Linked DNA regions of Homo sapiens: all the other regions are reported to be linked to region 2. Evidence: microRNA targets listed by miRTarBase, many of them from high-throughput screens and not tested one by one. Region 2 holds a microRNA gene; each other region holds the end of a gene's coding sequence.

Region 1 (4,071 bases), not on the chromosome of region 2:
ATTTCATTTTCCCAAAGAAGTTTGCTATTCTTGTGTTAATTGTGTATACCTGATTGTTTTTTCCTGGAGGTTTTTGTTGTTGTTGTTTAGTTTTGGGTTTTTTTTTTTTTAAGAGGGGCAAGTGTTTTCTGAAATGATGCATATTTTAAGACTCGATTCATATTGCCACTGTGCTATCCTTGAACTACCAATAATTTTTATAAAATATCTAGTTTTTACTACTTTTATATAAACTTTACTTTCCAGATGAAGAGCTGAGCCTGATTCAAATGGTTTTTCTGCTTTATACTTCTTTTTAGTTCATTGGTTTTTATAGTAGAGGTTTTCTATTTTTTTTTTTTTTTTTTTTACTACATTTATATGTCTGATACATATACGGCTTTGGAGACAATCAAGTAACAACTGAAAATGTGAAAGTAACCATATCTGACAAAATTCCCTTGAATTTTTATCCTTTGCTTGCAACATTTAAGACTCAAAGTCACTGGTATATTGGATTAAGTTTTTTCCTGTTAATGCAATTATAGAAATACATCGGAGACACAACAAATGTGGCCATTACAGGTTTCATAAAATTACACTGACTTGGCTGTTACTTGATCTTAGGAAACAGCACAGTTTAAGATATTGTGAATTCTGACTTATACTTTATTAAATGCTGTAAATCTAAATAGATCCTGTTGGATGTGATGGGTCTAGTCCAGTTTATTTAAGTTCATGTTTCACTGTTTGCACTTTGCATTGAACAATGGGTTTATTCGCTGATGTAAACGGTTCGAGTGAAGAATTAATGCAGTAAGTATGACAACACATACACACTTGCCTCTCCCCATCTCCAGAAGAGGGGAGCAGAGTCCGAGCTTATCTAAATATGAATGTGGCCACAAAGCTGTGGAAGGTGACAAAGCTTAAACACCTTTGCCCTGGCTCTGCATTGTCACCTAGAGAGCAAGAGGTCTATAGAAACATCATGTCACATGAAACGATTCTCTGCTTTTTGGTTCTGAACTTGAAGTCCCTAAACTGCAAAATCTAAGAGTTGGGTGGTTATTAAAATGCTTTTAAAGTCAACTGTGGCACCAATTCTAATGTAATCCAACTTGTGACTGTTTTTTTTTGTTTTGTTTTGTTTTTGTGTGTGTGTGTGTGGCACTGGGAAAAGTGGAAACAAACATGTATTGAAATACATATTGGAAATAAAAATGGTTTGAGCGTCAGTGATATTCTCCCAGAATGTACTTATCTTACCTCGGCATGTACTGTAGTCACTCAGTATTTGTATATGTTGCTAGAATTTAGATTGTAAAATAGTGAAATTTTAATGTGTTCATTTGTTTTTAATGTATATATGTCTTGCTCAGATTATTTGGTTTAAATAAAACAACCTTGAGGTTTGTAGCTTTTCCTTATACTATAAAATGCCAGATTCTTCTATTTTAACCTCACTAATTTATGGCCAATATTGTGCTTCCAGCAACATTTGAAAATGACACTGTTAGTTTACTTTGACTTTTTCTATGACCAGCGCCATCCTTTTTTTAAAAAAATAATTTCAACTTTTATTTTAGATTCTAAGGGTACATGTGCAGAGTGCAGGTTGTTACATGGGTATATTGTGTGATACTGAGGTTTGTGGTATGAATGATCCCATCATCCAGGTTGTGAGCATAGTACCCAATACATAGTCTTTCAGCCCTTGCCCTCCCCGCTCCCCTCGCTCCCCCCGCCGCAGTCCTCAGTGTCTATCGTTCCCATCTTTATGTCCTTGTGTACCCACAGCACCATTCTTTTTGAAGCCTGATTTACTTTATATCAATTGAACTTCAGCAGCCACACTGCAGCCTATGGCTGTGTGGTATGAGGGGAAAATCACACTGATTGATTACATGTGATTCCAGTTCTGGTACCTTCCTTTTGCACCTCAAAAAGTTATAAGAGGAATCAAAACTGTGGGACTCTGCAAACATATGCTGGTATTCATGTCTAATCTGGGTTAGATCAACTACTACTGTTCTCCCCTTTATTCTGCTTTATAAGTACCGCATTCTGTTTCTGAGCCAAATCTAATGTATTTCACCCTTTATACACCCTCTTTAGAGAGGCAGGTTGGTTGTCAGTAATCAAGCCATGGTTTTCCAGTGTTTCCCAATTGTATTTATTGGTCAAAAGAGAGTAATTCTTTCTTCAGCTCATACCTCTTCTGACAACTTTTAGTTCCATCCTTATAACCTCTATTTTTCTGTTTCTTCACCTCTCATTCCCCTACCTCCAGATGGCCTTTGGTTACATTTATTAAAATATAGGAAGGAAGACTAGCTCACCACATTTGTAGGATTGACTGGCTTGCATTGGATCAGATTCTCTGGTGCACCCTAGGTAGCCAGGCAAGCTTTCCATCTGAAGATTAGCTTTAATCATGGGAAAATGAGATATTCTTTTTGTACCATTTAAATCCAAAAATCCCAACTTCACTTTTTATATTTTTTAGAAGACAGCCTCACTCTGTCACCCAGGCTGAAGTGCAGTGGCGCGATCTTGGCTCACTGCAACCTCTGCCTCCCGGGCTCAAGCAATTCTCGTGCCTCAGCCTCCCGAGTACCTGGGACTACAGCGCATACCACCACGCCCAGCTAATTATTTTGTATTTTAGTAGAGATGAGGTTTCACCATGTTGGCCAGGCTGGTCTTGAACTCCTGAGTTCAGGCAATCCAGCTGCCTCCCTCGGCCTCCCAAAGTGTTTGTTAGGATTACAGGTGTGAGCCACCCTGCCCGGCCTCAGCTTGACTTTTCTTAAGTGTTTACTTGTTCTGTTATCTTCTTTACCTTTCCTAATTTACTTCAAGTGGAAAACCTTCAAAATTTAATGAATAAGTAAGTCAGGCAAAAAAAAATAATGTTCAAGATTTTTTTTTCCTTCTTGAGCTTGCCTAGCTTAGCTTCACTGTATAAAGTTAAACTTCATTTCTTTAAAATAATACAAAGCCATCAGAGTTTAGTAATTGTATTCTTTCTTTAGTTATTTACTTATCTAATAAGAACTTTATGTTTAGCCCATTTCCTTTAACTTAAAAACAAACACTGCCTTCATTGTACCAAATTACTCTTCACAATCATGGTTCATTTAATTCTGGGGGTTGTCAGGAGAGAGCTTAATTAAACCAGTATGAACTTAGATTTCCAGAGCCAAGTGGTTTCGGCTTGCCACATCAAGCCACAATCGTGATTTTCCACCAGCCATGTTTACAGTAGCCAAATATCCTCCTCAAAATGTCTTATTGTAGTCAGAATTGTTGTGGTAAACTAAATCCTTAGTAGGAAGTCATATCCCTTCAAAAATCTAAGATGAAGTAACTATAAAAAGACGTGTGAAAACACCTCAGAAAACTAGCTTATTTTAAAAACAATGCAATCAAAACTTATTTTCCTGTTATCTTTACATTTCTTGGTTTTCATAAGTTAAATATACAGTATTCACAGAAATTAAGCTGGTGGTTATGAATCACCAGGCAGCAACAGACAGTATACATAATTATTTGACGAGTGCATCCAACATATTTTAAACTAAAAATTGCAGTACAAAAATAAAACTAACACTGTTAGCATCATCTTCTGAGTCTGTAGAGTCAATCTTGAGTCAAGTTGATTACGAGGTTTTTTTCTATAATGTCCTTCAAAAAGAGCTGCTCTGCAGTCACATTGTGATACGCGTTCTAAAGAAGAAAAATACAATTACCATCATTCTTTCCCAATCTCAAAGTATTAGCAGCACCAATGGAGTACTTTATATCTAAAAAAATCCGAATAAAGAACTCGAATGTTAAGTAACGAGTTGCATGTACTTTTAACTTTTGATAGCCTTTTAAATTACTTTCCTTGCTGGTTCTTGTGCAAAAGCTTTCCCTACAGCCCACTCTTTCCATTTCAACTCTCACATAAGTAAGACTCCTTCATATCAAACCCTGGTAGACCGAATCATGGTACAATACAAATCTGGAGACCAAAATTTTGAGTTGTTCACTTTAATGGAAGAAGCCCCTAGAAATCAGTTTAAAAACAAACAAAATCAGCCT
Region 2 (4,089 bases):
GGCCCCCTGGAAGGGGACCTGCCCCGACAGCATCATGTACTAGGAGGGTGAGGGGAAGGTGAGGCCGGCCCAGGCTGGGGTGCCGAGGCTGACCCCTCCGCTCCCACAGAACCACTCACCCTCCCCACTAGGGGCACTCCTGAGACCCACGCGTGGTGAACCCTGACTTCTAACCCCCAATACCCGGATGCTCCGACTCTAGCACCAGAGCGACCCCACCTCTGTATTTGAACCACCCCGATCCCAGCTTCGGACGAAACCCAGCCGCCCCCACCAAGATGACCCCTGTCCCCTCCCTCGTGCTGCTGCACATCAGGAAGACGCCAGGTCCGAGCGACCCTGACCCCGCCTCAAGGACCGCGTCCCATACCAGAATGACGCCCAGGCTCCAGAGGTCGCAGGACTCGTCGTAGCCCTGCTGCGCCAGCAGCTCGGGGGCAGCGTACTGCAGCGTGAAGCAGGGCGTCTGCATGGGCACCCCGGGACTCTGCGGCCGCAACCGCGCGAACCCGAAGTCGATGATTTTCACCGGGGCCCCGGGCGTGTCGTCGGCGTACAGGATGTTCTGCGAGGGCGGCGGGGTAGTGGTCAGAGGCAGCCCCCGGCGCCACCGCTCCGCCCCGCCGCCGAGGCAGCTCGCCCACCTCCGGCTTGAGGTCGCGGTGCACCACGCCCGCCTCCTCGTGCATGAAGCTCACGGCCGACACGAGGCTGCGCAGGATCTGGCTTGCTTCCGACTCGCTGAAGTGCCGCTTCTTGCGGATGTGCTCCAGCAGCTCCCCGCCCCGCAGCAGCTCCAGGACCAGGTACGTGTGCAGCTGCGGGCGGCGTGGCGGGCCAAGGTCAACACCCACCCACGGCGGCAAGCCCCCTCCCACCACCCAGGCCCCGCCCCCGGCCTTCGGGCCCTGCCAATGTTCGAGAACCCCCTCCTCAAAGTCCTTTTTCTTTCTTTCTTTCTTTGTTACTTTTTTGGAGACAGTCTCGCTTTGTCGCCCAGGCTGGAATGCAGTGGCACCACCTCGGCTCACTGCAACCTCTGCCTTCCGGGTTCAAGCGATTCTCGTGCCTCAGCCTCCCAAGTAGCTGGGATTACAGGCGCACGCCACCGCGTCCGGCTAATTTTTGTATTTTTCGTAGAGACGGGGTTTCGCCATGTTCCCAGGCTGGTCTCGAACTCCCGACTTCAAGTGATCCGCCCACCTCGACCTCCCAAAGTGCTGGGATCACAGGCGTGAGCCATCGCGCCCGGCCAAAGTCCCTTTTCTTGTCCATCCTCAGCTCCGCCTTCCCGTCCTCAGGCCCTACTCCCCTCAAATTCCACTCCCTGCGCCTCCCTGGTCCCTTTGGGCCCCGAATCAAACGCTAGGCCCCGCCCAATTCACCCCTAGATCCCGCCCATAGTGCCCCCAAGCCCCGCCGCCTGCCCCTTTTCTCTCCGCCCTCCCCTGGCCGGAAGCCATCACCTGGTCGTGATGCACCTCGTGCAGATTCACCACGTTGGGGTGTGACTGGCACAGGCGCAGGGCAGCCACTTCGCGCTGCGTGTTCGCCTCCAGCCTGGGGGACGGAGCAGAAGGAGTTACGGTCGCCGCGCTTCGGCCCCGCCCCCGGGACAGCGCTCTGCCACCCCCACCCCTGCCCGCGCCTGGGCCCTCCCACCTGCGACTGAGGATCTTGACTGCGAACTCCTGGCCGCTCTGGCGCTGGCGGCAGCGGCGACACACAGAAAAGCTGCCCTGGCCCAGCGCAGGCTCCCGCAGGTCCAGCTCGTACTGCTGGAAGAAGGGCGAGTCCTGGAGGCGAAGGCGAAGGCGAAGGCGAAGGCGGCGCGTCAGAGGTCCCACCTGGTAGCCCCGCGGCCCCGCCACGCCCCATGTCGGAGAGGCTTAGGACCTTGCTGAGCTCACGCTGCGGGCGCCAGTTGGATCTAGGCCTAGAGTCCCCGGGCCTAGGCCTCTCCTAAAACCAATTTCCCCCCAACCCAGCCCAGCCCAGCCCACCTGCATCATAGCGCTCCTGGCCACCGCTGCCCGACCTGGCCGGTCTCCAGCACCAGGCGCTTCCAGCCCATCGGTCATCACCGCGTTGTTGTGGTCAAAGAGAATGGAGGGTGCCACAAAGGAGTATCCCTGCAGGGCGGGAGTCCGGGGAATGGGCATGGGCATGGGGGTTGGGGGTGCGGGTGAGGAGACTCTGGTGGGGAACCAGGCAAAGGCAAGACCCTGGACAAGGGGGCAGTGGGGGGTGTTCCAGTTGCATTCTGGTACACACAGGATGTGTGGACACTTTTTATTCCACCTGGTTTTATAATCACTTGGGGCCATGTCTGTCCCCACCAGCCTGTGACCCCAACTTTCTCATCAGAGTGACCACTTATTCCTCCCCAGGTGCCAAGGGCTGAAGGCACTGAAAGGACCAATGAATATATTGAAAGTGTGGCCTGAGTTCACGCTTAGCTTATGAGAATCCAACTCTATCCGCTGAGGAAAAAAAACTTATTCCTCCCTTTCAAGCCGGACTTTGGCTTCTTCTGCAAGGGGAGCTACTGAAGAAATGCAAAAAGAAGGCAGAGTTAATTCTTTGCTTTTCCTAAAGATCCATGTCCTGGCAATTTGAGGAGCTTTTAAGGGTCATTTTAATTGCGTGTTGTGGCCAGGCACGGTGGCTTGCGCCTGTAATCCCAGTACTTTGGGAGGCTGAGGCAGGTAGATCACCTGAGGTCAGGAGTTTGAGACCAGCCTGACCAACATGGAGAAACCCCATCTCTACTAATAATACAAAAATTAGCCAGGCGTGGTGGCACATGCCTGTAATCCCAGCTACTCGGGAGGCTGAGGCACGAGAATCGCTTGAACCCGGGAGGCAGAGGTTGCGGTGAGCCGATATCATGCCATTGCACTCTAGCCTGGGCAACAAGAGCGAAACTGCGTCTCAAAAAAAAAAATTAATTATCTGGGAGTGGTGGCACTTGCCTGTAGTCCTAGCTATTGGGCAGGCTGAGGTGGGAGGATCACTCAAGCCCAGGAGTTCAAGATTGCAGTGAGCCATGGTTGCCCAACTGCACTCCAGCCTGGGCCACAGAACAAGATCCTGTCTCTAAAACATTAATTAATTAATTTTAAAAAATAATTTTAAAAATAAACTATGTGTCATCTTCTCCTAAAAATGTAGTACCCAGATCCGTACCTGGAATATTTTAGGCACTCACTACACATTTTTGAATCATTAAATGAATGAATGAAAGTACCTACCAATTCAAGAGAAAGAACTTTATCATGAGGGCTGTGAGACAATGGAATGGAATGTGGACATTCAAGCACAGAGTTGTCAATTCTAAGAGCTTCAGAGAAGGGACTTATCCAGCCATACTTGGTCTGTCTATTAAACAAACCATACTGGTTTATTTAGTGATAATGATATAATATCATTATGGCAACATGATAAACTGCACAGAAGGAGATGCTGTCCACAGAGGACTGCAGCACAAAGAAAGGGTGACCCCCTGGGCCAGGTGAGCAGACAAGGAGGCCTAAAAGAGGGGTAGAAGCTTGCCATGTAGACTGCTGTAGAGAATGTACTCCAGGTAGCAGGAGCAGCAAGTGCAAAGGCACAGAGGTATATTCTGGAACCTCTGAGCAGTTCGATCATGCCCTCCAGAGCATCAAGTAGGAAAATGATGAGAACTGAGGCTAAGGTTCTAAGCAAGGACCACATCATGAAGGGCCTCAATGCCCAAGCAAAGGGAGTTTGGACTTGTCCAAAAGGTGTAAGCTTCTAAAATTCAGTAGAGGGGGCTTGGCATGGTGGCTCATGCCTCTAATCCCAGCACTTTGGGAGGCCGAGGTGGGCGGACCACAAGGTCAAGAGATTGAGACCATCCAGGCCAACATGGTGAAACCCCATCTCTACTGAAAATACAAAAATTAGCTGGGTGTGGTGGCGCACGCCTGTAGTCCCAACTACTCAGGAGGCTAAGGCAGGAGAATTGCTTGAACCCGTGAGGCAGAGATTTCAGTGAGCCAAGATCTAGCCACTGCACTCCAGCCTGGAGACAGAGTGAGACTCCGTCTCAAAAAAAAAAAAAAA
Region 3 (4,089 bases), not on the chromosome of region 2:
GGGAAGAGGAGGGAGGAGGAGGGAAGGAGGAGGAGAAAGAGGTGGAGGAGGGAGGAGGAGCGGAAGGGGAAGGGGGAGGGGTAAGGGCGAGGGCAGAGGAGGAGGGGGAGGGGATGGGGAAGGGGGAAGGGCGAGGGCAGAGGAGGAGAGAAGAGGGAGGGAGGCTGTGGAATGAGACAGCAGAGATGGCGATGAGGTCATCACGCAGGAGGAAATCTCACCCACACGAGGTGGACTTACAGGGCTGTGTGCTGCCTGGGCAGGCTGGACATGTCCAGGGCGGGGAAACCCTGGATATTTCACTCTGAAGTGGTTTCTTGAAAGAAAACTCAACTGACTCAGGCCATGAGCATCTTTTACACTGAAGCAAGCATCTCCTCACAAGTGCCTCCTACAAGTCACTAGAGTCATATTCAACATTACAAAATGCAGTGCTACTTAAATTTTAAAGCACTGAGGGACCAAGAAATGGGCTGATCAAGTCCTTGGCCACTCACTGTTAAGAGCCAGGATTTACAGATCAATGACTGTTCCTATTGTCCAAGAAATAATTTTCTAGCAAAGCATACACACTTTATTAAATTTCACAGCCAGCAGCGCTTTCAGTCCACAACAGATTTCTCAGAGGAAACATGGATATTTTGCGTAGGCAGAAACAGTGAGGAGTACAAAGCAAAGCTATAAATACCACCAATGGTTCTGCTATGTGCATCCGATATTTTTTGCCCGATCTGAAATACTGCAAGGGCTTAACCATTCAAACACCGCATGACAACGAACCCAGTGGACTGTGAAACTCAGGCTGCAGGAGGGTGGCTTGTCAGCTGGTGAAGCCACTTGGCTTTGGACTCCATCGGTCATCTTTACGCAAGAGCAGAGATGAACGGTGGGTCACGGCTATGACGTGAAGGAGAAAGAGAAGACACACTCACAGAACAGGATGGAGAGCTTCAATAATTTTTTAAAAGCTTGGAACCACCACCTGCTTTCCCAATCTTGGGCTGGGGTTTTGACTTTTCTTGATCATCAATCTGACTTGAAGCCTTTTACCAGTTACAATACAGACATGGCCAGATGACCTGCTTGTTAGGAAGGCTGTGGCCATCTTTGTTTCTGAAACAGTCTTATCTCATCTGTCCACTGCTGCTCTGGAAGGGTCAGGACCAGCACTGCAGACACTCGGCCATGCTGTGAGTGAGCCCAGACATACGCGTGGAATCTGAACACCCAACGCTGGCGTTCCCGTGCCAGTCTGAGGGCTGCGGCTCCAGCGCTTGTCCACACACACGCCTGCCTCTCTCTAGTTCCTCCACTGCCTGGCTTCCTCGCTTGCAAAACCCAGCATGTGAAATGAGGACACCTCCACGGAGACCCTTCCGAGCAGGGAGGTTTCATCACACCTTTCGTTCTTGCCAAGGAGTCTATCGCCTCATCCACAACATCTGCTTGCGGGAGAAACAGCAAATGTGTCCCTCTGAGGGAAGGACTGAGGAGGGCTTTGGTAGTCACAGATTGAGACACATTTCTGCGAAAACTGGTATTATGTTTCTGCACAGGAAAACAAAGTGTTAAAAATATTCCCATCCTCCCTCCAACTCCCTTCTGTCACACAGTCCCAAGTGAACTTGAAAAAGGTCCAGAAGTGAACACTTAGGGTGCATTTACCTTTCTCCTGAAGATGGGAAGACACACGGATGCTTGCCTAAAATATCTGCCGAGAGGTGAGCAGCTGTGGCCTGGGAAGGCGCTTGCTCTTCCTCCACATCAGCCAGAAGGCAGATCACACCTTCAGAGCACCCTACAGAACCCAGATGGCGAATCAAAGTGCAGAAAAAGAACACCCGCTTCCTCATTAGTCATTTAGGAAGATAAGATAGCATGGGACAGGGAGAACAACCATGTTCTGAATGGAGACTTTTTCAGGTTCCCAAACTTGGGACAGTGAGTGTGACCCCACATCCTGTGGTTTCTGCCTGACCCTTCTAAGCCAGAGGTGAGAAAACAACTCCCAGAGACCACGACTCTCACCCTCGGAGGTACCTGTTCCCCTGCAGGTGTGGCTCTCTGACAACCCCTAGGCAGGGGTGGGCTCCAGCTTTTGGAAGCAACCCTACCTAGCTGGCCCCCCAAGCATTAAGAAGCTTCCCTGATGGGGCCATGTTTTGGTCTCCTTTTAAGCCCTCAGTCACAATGTACCTTCTGAGCTTGTCCTACTATTCAGATGATTTTCTCTCTGAGTTGCAATACTGCTCAATTTAGGTGGCTACCTGTGTTCATTCAAGCTCTGGAAGTGTGGAAGGGAACTTAATCATTGAGTTTCTGTGAAGTATTTTGCCATCCTAAAATCCCTGAGAGTGAAACTGTTGAATCATGCTCACTTTCTTCACATACATACTCTTGGACTATGGGGACCAAGTCTGTTGAATTCATCTATTTAGAAATCCTACTAGCCTACAGGAAAAGCTTTTTAATGGGGATGATTTGCTTGGACTTAAGTATTTGCTTAAATACTACCTATTCTGCCCCCAGCTGCTCCTTGAGGAAAACTTTCCATTTCCCCCAAAATTCTGATCAAACACAACAAAGCCACAAGCATGAAGGGAAGCCAGACAGTGCTGCTCTGGGCTGTCAGGGAGTGGATGTCCAGGCAACGCCACAGGATAATGCTTTTTGAACTTAAAAATACATTTCTTTCCATCCATCAGGCAACATCTCAGTCAGAAAACCACCTCCCACCACCTGTGCTGTGCCACAGGGCATGATCCTGACAGCGACATCACAGCCTTCTTTTCCTGTTGGAAAGAAGACCACTGGGCCTCAGGAGCTGCTGTCCTGGTCACTCTCAGCATCTGGAATAAGGGTCTGGGGCAAAGCCGAGGGCAGGAATCCTGGGGCAGGTGCTACATCCTAAACTGGGTTTTGACTTTGCTTTCCAAAGTCACCTGTTTTCGTTCATTTTTGTCTCCCAAACAGGCAATGGCACTCTCCCCGCCCTTCTTCTTAAGTCCCAGGGTCCTCAGTAGACATTTCCTAAAGCATCAGACAGACACCTCGCACCCTCCTTCCCCCTCCACCAGCCGTCCTTGCTACACTTCCCCACACATGGGGTCACAACTGCATACACCTTAGAGCTCCGAAATGAAGAAGAAAAAAAGAAACCTAAATTAAAAATGAATTCTTCCTTTTCTCTTCCTCTCCTCCTCCCTGTGCCCGCCCTCCCATTCCCGCCTGAAAGAGGATCCAGCTGCCTCTAAACAGCCACAGATCGTTTCCATAAAAGAGAGTACAAAATCAGGTTTCCGCGGCACTGTGCTCCAGCCATGTGCCCTGGTGTCACTGTCGGTGGTGCCAATAGTTCACTGTAGGAGCTGCTCCTGCTGTCCAATAGGACTATGAATAAGTTAACAGTTTCCTTGGACAGTGCCATCCTCAGGGTCGGCTCTGTCACACGGCGCCTTCCCACTCGCCCTGGGGCTCCACGGAGCCGTTGGTCACCTTCTTGACTTTCTTCATACTTTCCATCACCCCAGATGTTGTCACACTGAACAAGGAAAGAAAAAACAATTAGGAACATCTCACAGTCTCTTAGTAAAAGGCCATCTCTGCCACAGCACGGTGATTAGGACTGATGATGGGTGTTGGTTTTTGAAACAGACAAAATCTAAGTGTGATTCCTGGTTCGTTCCTTACTAGCTGTGTAACCTTGGCCAAGTCACTTGAACTCTCTGTGCTTAAGTAATTCTCACTTTCCAGAACTGTCATGAGGAAAAATGAGATTCTCCAGAGTGCCTAATCAATAAACACCAGCTATCGTTATCACAATCATCATGAATCTTTTTGTCACAGCTTGCGGAATTTTTGTGGCGCACAGATATGTGATAGTTACGCTTATGAGACTGAAATCTGACTCTTAATGGACATTCAGAAAAGAAAGCTAATTAGCCAACCAGACATTTTTAATAAGCAGCCACAATGGATCATTTCTGAGCCAGGGGACAGAACCACAGGTTTAGAGGAACCTTCCAGGATCAAAGATTCTTTGGCCACTATAGACAGAGAACTGGCTGCTTTCTGCTAGCTGGGGCTGGG
Region 4 (4,089 bases), not on the chromosome of region 2:
TCACCATACTGTGCCAAGCTAATTTTTGTATTTTTTAGTAAAGACAGGGTTTCACCATGTTGGCCAGGCTGGTCTCGAACTCCTGGCTTCATGTGATCTACCCAAAGTGTTGGGATTACAGGCGTGAGCCACCATACCCAGCCGCCTGCTGTCACACACTTCTGCTGGATGGGGAGGTGTCCCCATGGCTGCCCCTGTGACCCCACATCCAATTTCTCCAGGGATCCAGACGCTCACCAACCAGAAGCAAGGGCACTGCTATGGAGTGGTGGCAGGCTGGCCACCTGCTCGTCGCCGGCGCTTGGGGGTGCACCTGCTGCACCGTGCCCTCCTTGTCTTCCTGGCTGAAGGCGAGCGACAGCTTCATCCCCAGGACATCCAGGCCCGGGGCTGAGTGCTGGGGAGTTGGCCATCCAGCCTGGGGAGAAATGTTTGAATGTTCCAGCTGCCCCATGCTGACAGCAGCCCCCATCTCTGGTTTCAGAAGGGGTGTGTGTGTGTGTGTGTGTGTGTGTGTGTGTGTGTGTGTGTGTTTGTGTGTGTGTGTGTGTGTGTAGGGAGCACCCAGGCAGATCTCCCCCAGGCTGAGAGAGGACTTTGTTACAGATGGTACTGCTGGAGAGGTAGTAAGTAGTGAGCTCCCCATCGTGGGAGGAGGACAAGAAGGGAAGCAGAAGGTGCTTTGGAACAGTCCGGTGCTTCTGTAAGAGGCGTTTGAACCTGGGCAACTCCACCTGGAATAGGAGCTGGGTAAAATGAGGCTGAAACCTACTGGGCTGCATTCCCAGATGGTTAAAGCATTCTAAGTCACGGGATCAGGTAGGAGGTCAGCACAAGATAACGGGTCATAAAGAACCTGCTGATAAAACAGGTTGCAGTAAAGAAGCCGGCCAAAACCCACCAATACCAAGATGGCGACAAGAGTGACCTCTGGTCGTCCTCATTGCTACACTCCCACCAGCGCCATGACAGTTTACAAATGCCATGGCTGGCCAGGCGCGGTGGCTCACGCCTGTAATCCTAGCATTTTGGGAGGCCAAGGAGGGCAGATCACCTAAGGTCAGGAGTTCAAGACCAGCGTGGCCAACGTGGCGAAACCCTATCTCTACTAAAAATACCAAAATTAGCTGGGCATGGTGGCGCGTGCCTGTAATCCCAGCTACTAGGGGGGCTGAGGCAGGAGGATCGCTTGAACCCAGGAGGTGGAGGTTGCAGTGAGCTGAGATTGTACCATTGCACTCCAGCCTGGGCAACAGAGCGAGAGTCTGTCTCAAACAAACAAACAAAAAAACAAATGCCACATCAACATCAGGACGTTAACCTTTAGACCCTATATGGTCTAAAAAGGGGAGGCATGAATAATCCACCCCTTGTTTAGCATATCATCAAGAAATAACCATAAAAATGGGCAACCAGCAGCCCTGCCCTGTCTATGGAGTAGCCATTCTTTTATTCCTTTAGTTTCTTAATAAATTTGCTTTCACTGTACTCTATGAACTCGCCCTGGATTCTTTCTAGCGTGAGATTGGAGAACCCTCTCTTGGGGTCTGGATCGGGCCTTTCTGGTAACACTTTGGCAGCTTGGTGCTGTCAAAATGGATGGAGCCTGCCAGGCGCGGTGGCTCACGCCTGTAATCCCAGCACTTTGGGAGGCTGAGGCAGGTGGATCACAAGGTCAGGAGATTGAGACCGTCCTGGCTAACATGGTGAAACCCCGTCTCTACTAAAAATACAAAAAATTAGACAGGCATGGTTGCAGGCGGCTATAATCCCAGCTACTCGGGAAGCTGAGGCAGGAGAATGGCATGAACCTGGGAGGTGGAGCTTGCAGTGAGCCGAGATTGTGCCACTGCACTCCAGCCTGGGCAACAGAGCGAGACTCTGTCTCAAAAAATAAATAAAATAAAATGGATAGAGGCTGCTTTTACCGCCCAGACATGGGACACCCACATGGCGGGTTGGACTGGGGGATCCTCAGCTGCACTCAGGATATCTACCCAGCTCAAGAGCCAAGTTCACTGCTACCCAGCCGTGAGACCTCTGATCAGTATTTTATCTGCCTGAGCATCAGTTTCCTTGGTTGTACAGTGGAGGCAGTAAAGAGGTCCTACTCCAGGGGATCATTGTAAGGTCATGTTGGGGCTGGGTGTCACGCTTGTAATCCCAGCACTTTGGGAGGCTGAGGCGGGAGCATAGCATGAGCCCAGGAGTTTGAGACCAGCCTGGGCAACATAGCAAGACTCTATCTCTACGAAAAGTAAAAACATTAGGCGGATCTGGTGGGTGGGCCTGTGGTCCTAGCTGCTTGGGAGCCTGAGGTGGGAAGATTGCTTGAGCCTGGGAGTTGGAGGCTTCAAGGAGCTACCATCACAGCACTGCACTCCAGCCTGGGCGATATCAAGATCCTGTCTCTTAAAAAAACTATAAAAATTTAAAAATAAGGTCATGTGAGCAAAGTGTGTGGCTCAGAGCCCAAAGTGTGTGGCAGTGCAGCCCAGGCGAGAACTTGCTGGAGGAAGGGGAGGTGTGGGGGCCCTCAAGGGGCCGCCTGTGTGATGAGGCGTGAGCAGGGCTGGGACCCTCCTCAGGATCATTGTGCAACCCCAGCCTCCCCTGTTGCTTCTGGGAACCTGTTTATCCACTATAAAATGGGATTATTGGCCGGGCTCGGTGGCTCACGCCTGTAATCCCAGCACTTTGGGAGGCCGAGGCAGGCAGATCACCTGAGTTCGGGAGTTCGAGACCAGCCTGACCAACATGGAGAAACCCCATCTCTATTAAAAATACAAAAATTAGCTGGGCGTGGTGGCGCATGCCTGTAATCTCAGCTACTTGGGAGGCTGAGGCAGGAGAATTGCTTGAACCCGGGAGGCGGAGGTTGCAGTGAGCCAAGATCAAGCCATTGCAGTCCAGCCTGGGTAACAAGAGCAAAACTCCGTCTCAAAAAAAGGGAGGGATCATTAATAATAACCCGGCAGGGCGTGGTGGCTCACGCCTGTAATCCCGGCACTTTGGGAGGCCGAGGCGGGTGGATCACCTGAGGTCAGGAGTTCAAGACCAGCCTGACCAACATGGTGAAACCCTGTCTCTACTACATACAAAACATGAGCCGGGTGTGGTGGTGAGCACCTGTGATTCCAGCTACTTGGGAGGCTGAGGCAGGAGAATCACTTGAACCCGGGAGGCGAAGGTTGCAGAAAACTGAGATCGCGCCACTGTACCCCAGCCTGGGCGACAGTGAGACTCCGTCTCAAATAATAATAATAATAATAATAATAATAATAATAATAATAATAATAATAATAAATAACCCGACTTCCAGCGATGCTATGCGACTTCAGACCATTCATGTGCAAAGGTCTTAAGTAAATACCAAGCCGCCATCCTGGTGAGATGTCAGCGGTCTGGTTTCGGGCGGGCGGGGGTCGGGGGGGGGTCGAGGGCATTTAAGCTTCTGGAAGTCGCTTCTGCAAAGGGCCCGGTGCATTTAGGGACTTGGGAGAGATCCGCTGCCTCATTGGTTTCAGGACCTGCCGGTCATCACGGCGGTTTAGCCAACCAGGTCCCCCAGGGGGCGGGCTGTGACCTGGGCCGAGTTTCCACCCACCTCGCCACTGCTTAGCCACCGGCTGCTCCTCGGGGAATGGCTGGTATTGTGATTAGGGGTCCAGTCTCTGGAGTGGGTTTGGGCTCGACCACTTGTAATCGAGCTGAAGAAACCGCTCTCTGAGCTTCACTTTCCTCCAGTGTAAAACAGGGGCCAGGCACCGTGGCTCACGCCTGTACTCCCAGAACTTTGGGAGGCCGAAGCGAGTGGATCACCTGAGGTCAGGAGTTCAAGATCAGCCTGGCCAACACAGTGAAACACTGTCTCTACTAAAAATACAAAAATTAGCCGGGCGCGGTGGCGGGTGTCTGTAATCTCAGCTACTCGGGAGGCTGAGGCAGGAGAATCGCTTGAACCCAGGAGGCTGAGGCTGCAGTGAACCGAGATTGTGCCACTGCACTCCAGCCTGGGTAACAGAGCAAGACACTGTCTCAGAAAAAAAAAAAAAAGTGTGAAACAGGGATGCCTCCCAGTTGCCAAAT
Region 5 (4,089 bases), not on the chromosome of region 2:
ATAAATGCAAATGGCCACTTGAAAACCACCCTCAGCTCTAAAATTTTAAAAATTCTGTTTCCTTCAGAGGTAGCTATAATGTGAAACTCCTGATATCAAGATAGTTTTACTAAATCTGCTAATCTCATTTCATTGCTTTGTTACAGATTGACGTTCTCAAGGCAGATCTGGAAAGTGCAGAATGGAAAGTTTTGGAAAATCTTATTCTGGAAGATGTTCTTGAGCAGATTGGACAGCTCATCTTTGAGATCCATCTCCACTGGCCTGGGTTTGAGGTCAGTGGCAGTGACAGCAGCGTTGTGCGGTTCTGGTACAGCCTTCTCAAAGAGTTAGAACAAAAGGATTTCAGGCTTTTTCACAGTTACAAAGACTTATCTAAACCTCAGCTATTCTTGAAGAAAGACATTTTCAATGCAAGTAGCTGTTATACTCTGAGTTGGGTGAATACAAGATGGAAATAGGATGCAGGATGTCATCAAGAGCACAAGAAAATATTTGCAGAATGCAGCATGTCCATAATTCTAATCATGAGTTTACTCATCCAGTCTCCTGCTAGCCTGTGCCCTGCTTGAGGCAGGGAGTGTGTTATTGCGGGCATGCAGCCTAGTGCTTGGCATGTGATGGGGCACAGTCAATACTTGTTAAAGGGATAAACACAGTCACCCCTATTTGCCCAGACTCTTCCTTCACCTTAACTTGGAAGATTATCCCCAGCTCATCACAGTTTTCCCTAAAATTCTCTATGTATCTATAATCTATGAATTCACCAACATTGAAATGAAATTATATAAATTTCCTATTTTTACTAGGTTGGTGAGATTTTTAAGTTCTTCCCCTACTGTTTAAAATAGGGTTTTAAATTTGAATTTGACCCTCCTTTTTCAAGGTTTTTCTTATTTACCTTGTTAATGATATTCTTTACAACCTTGTAGATTTCAGTCATTCCTTCTCAGCCTTTGCTGAGGCCATGCTGTGGCTTTCTAAGCAGCAATACTTCTGATTTCTGGGAACTCGGATGCACCAAATTCTGTCACTGAGTTAAAGAGACTAGACTATCAAGAGCTTCAACACGAAGGTGTAAGTTCCAGTTCGAGACCAAGTCTGAAGGTCTTGACCTCACCAAGACCCATGTCCCAGCTTGAAGACAGCCAGACAGAGAATTAATTCTTCCTTACTGCCTTAGGTTCTATTCAGGCCTTCAACTGGTTGAATGAGGTCCACTTACACTGAGGTGAAGAATCTGATTTATTTAGTCTACTGATTTAAATATTAATTTCATCTGGAAATATCCTTACAGATACACCTAGAATAATGTTTAACTAAAGATCTGGACACCCTTTAGTCCAGTTAAGTTGACACATAAAATTAACCATTGTAGGTAGGTAGGTAGATAAATAGATAGATGATAGATAGATAGATAGATAGATAGATAGATAAGATAGATTTTCCTACTGGCATGTTTCACCATTTTCTTGACTCACATATTCTGGTTTCCATCTGGCTCCTTCGGTCTGTGCTCTCCTCACTGAAGTAAGGCCTTTAATGATTACTTCATTATAAGTCCATGAGTAATATGGTTTGGCTACGTCCCCAACCAAATCTCATCTTGAATTGTAGTTCCCATAATCCCCACGTGTTGTGGGAGGGACCTGGTGAGAGGTAATTGAATCATGGGGTTGGTTTCCTCCATGCTATTCTCATGATACTGAGTAAGTTCTCATGAGATCTGATGGTTTTATAAGAGGTGTCCCCCTTCACTTGGCTCTCATTTTTCTCCTTCCTGCTGCCATATGAAGAAGGATGTGTTTGCTTCCCCTTCCACCACGACTGTAAGTTTCCTGAGGCCTCGCCAGCCATGCTAAACTGTGAGTCAATTAAATCTCTTTCCTCTATAAATTACTCAGTCTCAGGTATATCTTCATAGCAGTGTGAGAATGGACTAATACTTTGGGTATTACACTTTTTAGATTTTACGTATTTGAAAAAGCACTTGCTTTTTATACCTGAATAAAGTTTATTTGTTCACAGAAAAAAAAAAGAGCTTCAACTCAAGATGCTTTTTATACTCAGCCTTAATTCCCCTTCACTTCCTATTAAACTAAGCACAGAGCAGAATCTGGGTATCTTTGCTGTTGCCTCTTCTGCCTTCAAACATGATTTACCACCCACAGACTTGCCTATGCTGTCAAATCTTTTTTAAAAAAATACATTATCTCTAATAATGTTAAGTGCATTTTTCTTTACTCCCAGTTGGCATCACTTACATGATTGTGGCCTGAAGACCATCGTCTCACTTTCGTAGGATAGTTAGACAGTTTTTCAATAGCACCGATCCTTTCTACATTAAAAGTTAAGTGGAAAGTTTAGGTTCTCAGCGGTTCAAATGCTCTCTCTCATTACTATTTACAGGATTAAACACGTGCATAATTTTCTAAAATTCTATTTCAAATAAATAGCATAAAAACCACATTATTACTTTATTGTCAATTAAATATATTTTTTGGCATTTTTATATCCTGAGTATAAAACTGTATGTACATTGCTCAAAAACTGGGGGGAGAGAGTAGAATGCCGATTATTACTAGACTTTACCCCTTTTCCCAATTTGTACTTCCTTCTACCCTCAGACATTCCCCAGGTTAGCTCTTTGTTTCTTGAAGTGGTTTGAAAATGCCATTCCTCAAGTGAGAAATCAAATCGTCTTAGACTTGGATGACCTCACTAGCTTGAGTTGAAAAGAGAACAGGACTTTCTGAGTTAGTTGTGATAATTAAAAAATATATACACATGAGCTTTTTATTTTAAAACTCATAGTCCACTAATAAAAGTTGTTGAGCTGAGAGGACTGGCTTGAGTAAGTGTGATCTGAAAAGGCAGTTTAGTCATTTCAATGTACAGAGGTATTTCAAATGTGCAGAAGGGTCCACACACACTCTAAATTGGTTTATACTGTTAGTTATATGGTGTCATCTCCAAAGCAAAGCTAACTTTAGCCCAGTTCTGTTTGGATTATATAACAGATTTATTTTCATAAAATGTTTATATACTGAAATATATAAACATTTTTATACATTAAAGTGTAGAAAGTGTATTCATCTTAAATGTCCAGTCTGATCAGCTTTTAGATATGTAGCACACCCATATTAAGATTTTTAATTCGTGGAATTGGAGATTTAGGGTATTACTGAAAGCCCCTTTGTCTACGGCAAGTTAACTATTTATTTCAGGTTGGTGGTGTTGAGCATTGACTTCATCATGCTATATGTACCTGAAGCATGAATGAATGTACTGTTAAAAAAGAATATATCATGAACACATCCAGCCACGCTGATTGACCAGGCAGCCTGTTTAATAGTTATCCATACTTATTTTATGCTTATTTCTAAAATGGTCCTTCATTCTCTTCATGTATAGTTTCAAATTTGTGATGAATATACTGATGGTTGTTAAGGTTTTCCTGCCTCTAGAGTTTATTATGTTTATCATAAATAAACATAATAAATTTCTTAACCTCAGCACTATTGCCATTTGGGCTGGATAATTCTTTACCGGGGGAGGGCTGTTCTGTGCATTGTAGGATATGTCCCCGAGGGGGCAAGATCACCCACTGTGGAGAACTACTGGTGCAGGCCATGAGAAGAGGACCAGGCTACTATAGCACTGTTTACTTGTGAACAGGCAAACACAAGATCCTCTTATGAGGAACGGGCAAAACCATAATCATCACCACCACAACCACCACAAGAGCAACACAAACAACACATAACAAACAAACAAAACCAAGAGTTACTCTTTACTGAGAGCTAACTGTCTGCCGGACCATGTGCATAGCTTATTCCTAATTCTCACAACAAGGAAGTTTATTTTTTTCCAACATCATGAGTAAAGAAATTCTGAGAGAGGCCGGGCGCAGTGGCTCATGCCTGTAATCCCAGCACTTTGGGAGGCCGAGGCGGGCAGATCACGAGGTCGGGAGATCGAGACCATCCTGGCTAACACGTTGAAACCCTGTCTTTACTAAAAATACAAAAAATTAGTGGGCGTGGTGGCATGTGCCTGCAGTCCCAGCTACTCGGGTGGCTGAGGCAG
Region 6 (4,089 bases), not on the chromosome of region 2:
AAGTCAGCCTTGGTTTGGCTTCCTATTCTCAAGGGTTTTGTAAAAGTTTAATCTGAGAGTCCTTATAAAAACTTAGAGCAAATAAAATTCTAAAAGAGCGCCTACATGGTCTATTGCTACTCTTGCTGCACTTATGTAAAGAATCAGACCACGTTTGAAGAAACTCAACCTATTTTGCAAACAAACTTATTCTACTGAAATTATCATTGGTAAAACTAGAGATGCCCATAGAGAGAAAAATTATGTGGAAAATAAAAACTGTAGTACACCGGTTATGAGATTGCAGCTCTGTTCATTGTTTCTGTGTTTTTATTATCCACCTGTAGACTGGATATTACCCTGAATTCTACTAGTTCCTCCAATTCCATTTTCTCCCATGGAATCACGAAGAGCAAGACCCACTCTGTTCCAGAAGCCCTATAAGCTGGAGGTGGACAACTCGATGTAAATTTCATGGGAAAACCCTTGTACCTGACATGTGAGCCACTCAGAACTCACCAAAATGTTCGACACCATAACAACAGCTACTCAAACTGTAAACCAGGATAACAAGTTGATGACTTCACACTGTGGACAGTTTTTCCAAAGATGTCAGAACAAGACTCCCCATCATGATAAGGCTCCCACCCCTCTTAACCGTCCTTGCTCATGCCTGCCTCTTTCACTTGGCAGGATAATGCAGTCATTAGAATTTCACATGTAGTAGCTTCTGAGGGTAACAACAGAGTGTCAGATATGTCATCTCAACCTCAAACTTTTACGTAACATCTCAGGGGAAATGTGGCTCTCTCCATCTTGCATACAGGGCTCCCAATAGAAATGAACACAGAGATATTGCCTGTGTGTTTGCAGAGAAGATGGTTTCTATAAAGAGTAGGAAAGCTGAAATTATAGTAGAGTCTCCTTTAAATGCACATTGTGTGGATGGCTCTCACCATTTCCTAAGAGATACAGTGTAAAACGTGACAGTAATACTGATTCTAGCAGAATAAAACATGTACCACATTTGCTAATACTGTTCTCTTAAAATAATTTTAAAAGAATGGGGTGGGCCCTCCCATGTGTCCAGGCCAGGTCTCTGAACAGAATCCTCCATCTGCAGTAACAATGCCTAAGAAGATGACATGGACTTGGTCCTGATATGCAGCCATTCCTGTATACCCTTCCCCTGCTGCAGGGCTGTACTAGCCCAGGGCCCAAATCTTCAGCTGCAGAGCTGAGAGAGAACATGGGATACCCAGCATCCCTTACCTTCTTCCAGTTCACTGCAGTGGCTACCGGCATGGCCCATTTATCCCTGAGGACACCCATCTGCTGACCCACAGTTTCTAAGAGTCAGACTTTCCTGGCTTCTCTGAGTCCCAGCTACTTTCACTCTGCTGAATCCTTCTTCTCCCCACAGGTGTCATTGACTTAGCAGACACCTCTTTCAGCTGCAGCTAACAGGTAAGCCAAGACCCAGACCCCAGAGAATAAACAAGGATTTCAAAACCTACTGTGTCCAACGGAGATGCCCACTTGTGGGCGGCAAGCCACCCAGGTGCCGAGGCAAGAGACCGAGGGCACGAGCTTTTCCAGTATAATAAAATATAAAAGGAGAATAGTTATACCAGATATAGATCTTAGATATGATTATATAGGAATATCATTAATCATTAGTTGGTAGCAATTACTCTTTATTCCAATATTATAATAATCCTCGCTCTATGATTATAACCTAGGAAAAGCCAGGTCATAAATAGATAGGAGCTGGGGAGACATAGTGAGAAGTGACCAGAAGACAAGATTGCGAGCCTTCTGTTATGCCCAGACAGGGCCACTAGAGGGCTCCTGGTCTAGTGGTAATACCAGCGTCTGGGAAGACACCTGTTGCCAAGTGGACCATGGACTAGAGGTACCCTCAGTGTCAAGGAAAAACACCCACTACTTAGCAGACCGGGAAAGGGAGTCTCCCTTTCCCCGGGGGAGTTTAGAGAAGACTCTACTTCTCCATCTCTTGTGGAGGGCCTGATGTTAGTGAGGTCCAACCACAGTTATCCGGAGGCCTAACCGTCTCCCTGTGATGCTGTGCTTCAGTGGTCACACTCCTAGTCTGCCTTCATGTTCCATCCTGTACAGCTGGCTCTGCTGTTTAGTTAGCAGTAGCAAATTAGTGAAAGTACTAAAAGTCTCTAATAAGCAGAAATAATGCTGTAAGCTCTTTCTCCTCTCTCTCTCTGCCTCAGCTGCCAAACAGAGAAGGGCCCCCTGTCCAGTGGACACGTGACCCATGTGGTCTCACCTATCATTGGAGATGGCTCACACTCCTTATCCTGCCCCTTTGTCTTGTATACAATAAATATCAGCGCAGCCTGGCATTCGTGGCCACTACCGTTCTCCACGTCTTGGTGGTAGTGGTTCCCTGGGCCCAATTGTCTTTTCTTTTATCTCTTTGTCTTGTGTCTTCATTTCTACAATCTCTCATCTCTGTACATGTGGAGAAAAACCCACCGACCCTGTGGGGCTGGTCCCTACACCCACTGTACAGAGACATAAATAAGTAGAGATGTATACAACTCCCCAACAACACGGTGTCCTAAAACAATGTTCCCTTCCCCCCTCATCGTGGAATTTACTGTCTCTCACCACATGGGCAAGTGCTTCCAGGGTCTCACAATTCTTCCACAAGAGGCAATGCACACTTTAACATAGCACTTCAGCAAATAAAGTGGTGACAGTTTACCTACTTAGAATAAGTTTCTTGAAGGTTCTCCCAAATTTCCCCCTGAAGAAGACAGAAAAGGCTTTCCCAATTGTGAAACACTGGCCTTCCCACCTTTCAAAAAGGACCACTGAATAGCCAAAACAATCTTGCCGAAATAAATTGTAGGACTTGAACTTTCTTATTTGAAAACTGACAAAGTAGTACAATTATTAAAACAGAAGCTGCTGGCAAAAGATAGACATAAAGACAAATGGGATAGAATTGAGAGTCTAGAAATAAACCCTGACACTTATGGTCAATTACTCTTTGAAGGAGGTATCAAGACAATTTAATGGAGGAACAATTCTCCTTTCAAATGATAGTGCAGAAACAACTAGATAACCACATGCAAAACAGTTAATTTAGATAATTCTACCTCCCACGATATCAAACCATTCTCTAAAAAATTGATCACTGAGTTAAATATAAGACCTATAACCATAAAAACATCTTAAAATAAACATAGACGTAAGTATTGATGATCTCAAATGTGCAGTGGATTCTTAGATATGATACAAAAGCATGAGAAACAAGAAAAAAAGATAAATTGGGCTTTATCAAGATGTAAGCCTTTTGTACATCAAAGGAAATTATCAAGAAAATAATTAATAGGCACAGAATGAGAGAAAATATCTGCAAACCACATATAGGCAGTTTTCATGTCCAGATAATATCAAGAACTAGCTACAACTCAATAACAAAAGGACAAACCATCCAATTTATAAATGGGCAAAAGACTCAAATAGACATTTCTTCAAAGAAGATATACAAATAGTCAAGAAGGACATGAAAAGATACTCAACATCATTAGTCATTAGGAAAATACAACGTCAAAGCTACAATGAGACACCAATCACACCTACAAAACTGGCTACCATTCTTTTACAATGTTAAATAACAAGTAGCAGCATTATGTAGAATTTCGAATCCTCATATATTGCTGGTGAGAATATAAAAATGTACAGCCACTAGGAGAAACAGTTTTCCTGTTCCTCAAAAAGCTAATCATAGAATTCTCATTTGAAACAACATCCATTCCTAGGTATATACCCAAAAAATTAAATCCAGGGACTCAAACAGGTACTTGCATAGGAATGTTGATTGCAGCATTATTCACAAAAGATAAAATATGAAAACAATCCAAGTGTTCATCAACACATGAATAAATAAATATGGTGACACATACAACAGAATGTTAATCTGCCATAAAGAGGAATGAAGCTCTGACACCCGCTGGAACATGCATGGACTTTGGAAACATTATGCTAAGTGAAATATGTCAGAAACAAAATAACACCATTGTATAATTCCATTTATATGAACCATTAAGAATAGGCAAATTCATA

The links. The annotated mature microRNA hsa-miR-1237-3p reads UCCUUCUGCUCCGUCCCCCAG and lies in region 2 at 1,561-1,581, opposite strand. An mRNA with a match to its seed (bases 2 to 7 or 8) in the 3' UTR can be bound and repressed. Matches are read on the target gene's strand: a 7mer-m8 pairs with bases 2 to 8, a 7mer-A1 pairs with bases 2 to 7 and ends in A, and an 8mer does both.
Region 1: miRTarBase lists ST3GAL6 as a target of hsa-miR-1237-3p. Seed matches in the 3' UTR shown: 7mer-A1 at 2,913-2,919.
Region 3: miRTarBase lists GPR107 as a target of hsa-miR-1237-3p. Seed matches in the 3' UTR shown: 7mer-m8 at 2,196-2,202 and 7mer-m8 at 1,599-1,605.
Region 4: the mRNA of ANKLE1 is a reported target of hsa-miR-1237-3p. Seed matches in the 3' UTR shown: 7mer-m8 at 482-488 and 7mer-m8 at 672-678.
Region 5: miRTarBase lists METTL24 as a target of hsa-miR-1237-3p. Seed matches in the 3' UTR shown: 7mer-A1 at 1,795-1,801.
Region 6: miRTarBase lists PSG4 as a target of hsa-miR-1237-3p. The part of its 3' UTR that is shown has no 7-base or 8-base seed match.

What each region holds. Positions count from the first base shown.
Region 1 is chr3:98,793,315-98,797,385 of GRCh38, reverse strand. ST3GAL6 (ST3 beta-galactoside alpha-2,3-sialyltransferase 6) reads right to left here. Exons shown (of 10, transcript NM_001323368.2): 10 at 1,534-3,711. The coding sequence ends at 3,625. It overlaps DCBLD2 (discoidin, CUB and LCCL domain containing 2), which reads left to right. Exons shown (of 16, transcript NM_080927.4): 16 at 1-1,445. Among named protein-coding and RNA genes, the nearest start is that of ST3GAL6, 32 kb to the right of the region's middle.
Region 2 is chr11:64,366,175-64,370,263 of GRCh38, reverse strand. MIR1237 (microRNA 1237) reads right to left here and starts at 1,662; the gene lies at 1,561-1,662. RPS6KA4 (ribosomal protein S6 kinase A4) reads right to left here. Exons shown (of 17, transcript NM_003942.3): 10 at 2,004-2,132; 11 at 1,663-1,796; 12 at 1,467-1,560; 13 at 645-818; 14 at 371-565; 15 at 1-39. RefSeq lists an enhancer at 586-1,105.
Region 3 is chr9:130,134,477-130,138,565 of GRCh38, reverse strand. It overlaps GPR107 (G protein-coupled receptor 107), which reads right to left. Exons shown (of 18, transcript NM_020960.5): 18 at 1-3,541. The coding sequence ends at 3,445. Among named protein-coding and RNA genes, the nearest start is that of GPRACR, 7.7 kb to the left of the region's middle.
Region 4 is chr19:17,286,159-17,290,247 of GRCh38, forward strand. ANKLE1 (ankyrin repeat and LEM domain containing 1) reads left to right here. Exons shown (of 9, transcript NM_152363.6): 9 at 222-1,488. The coding sequence ends at 394. Among named protein-coding and RNA genes, the nearest start is that of ANKLE1, 6.3 kb to the left of the region's middle.
Region 5 is chr6:110,242,318-110,246,406 of GRCh38, reverse strand. It overlaps METTL24 (methyltransferase like 24), which reads left to right. Exons shown (of 5, transcript NM_001123364.3): 5 at 147-2,467. The coding sequence ends at 461. It overlaps LOC105377937 (a long non-coding RNA gene), which reads right to left and starts at 2,337. Exons shown (of 2, transcript XR_942858.3): 1 at 2,265-2,337.
Region 6 is chr19:43,189,626-43,193,714 of GRCh38, reverse strand. PSG4 (pregnancy specific beta-1-glycoprotein 4) reads left to right here. Exons shown (of 6, transcript NM_002780.5): 6 at 327-1,013. The coding sequence ends at 343. Among named protein-coding and RNA genes, the nearest start is that of PSG5, 5.1 kb to the right of the region's middle.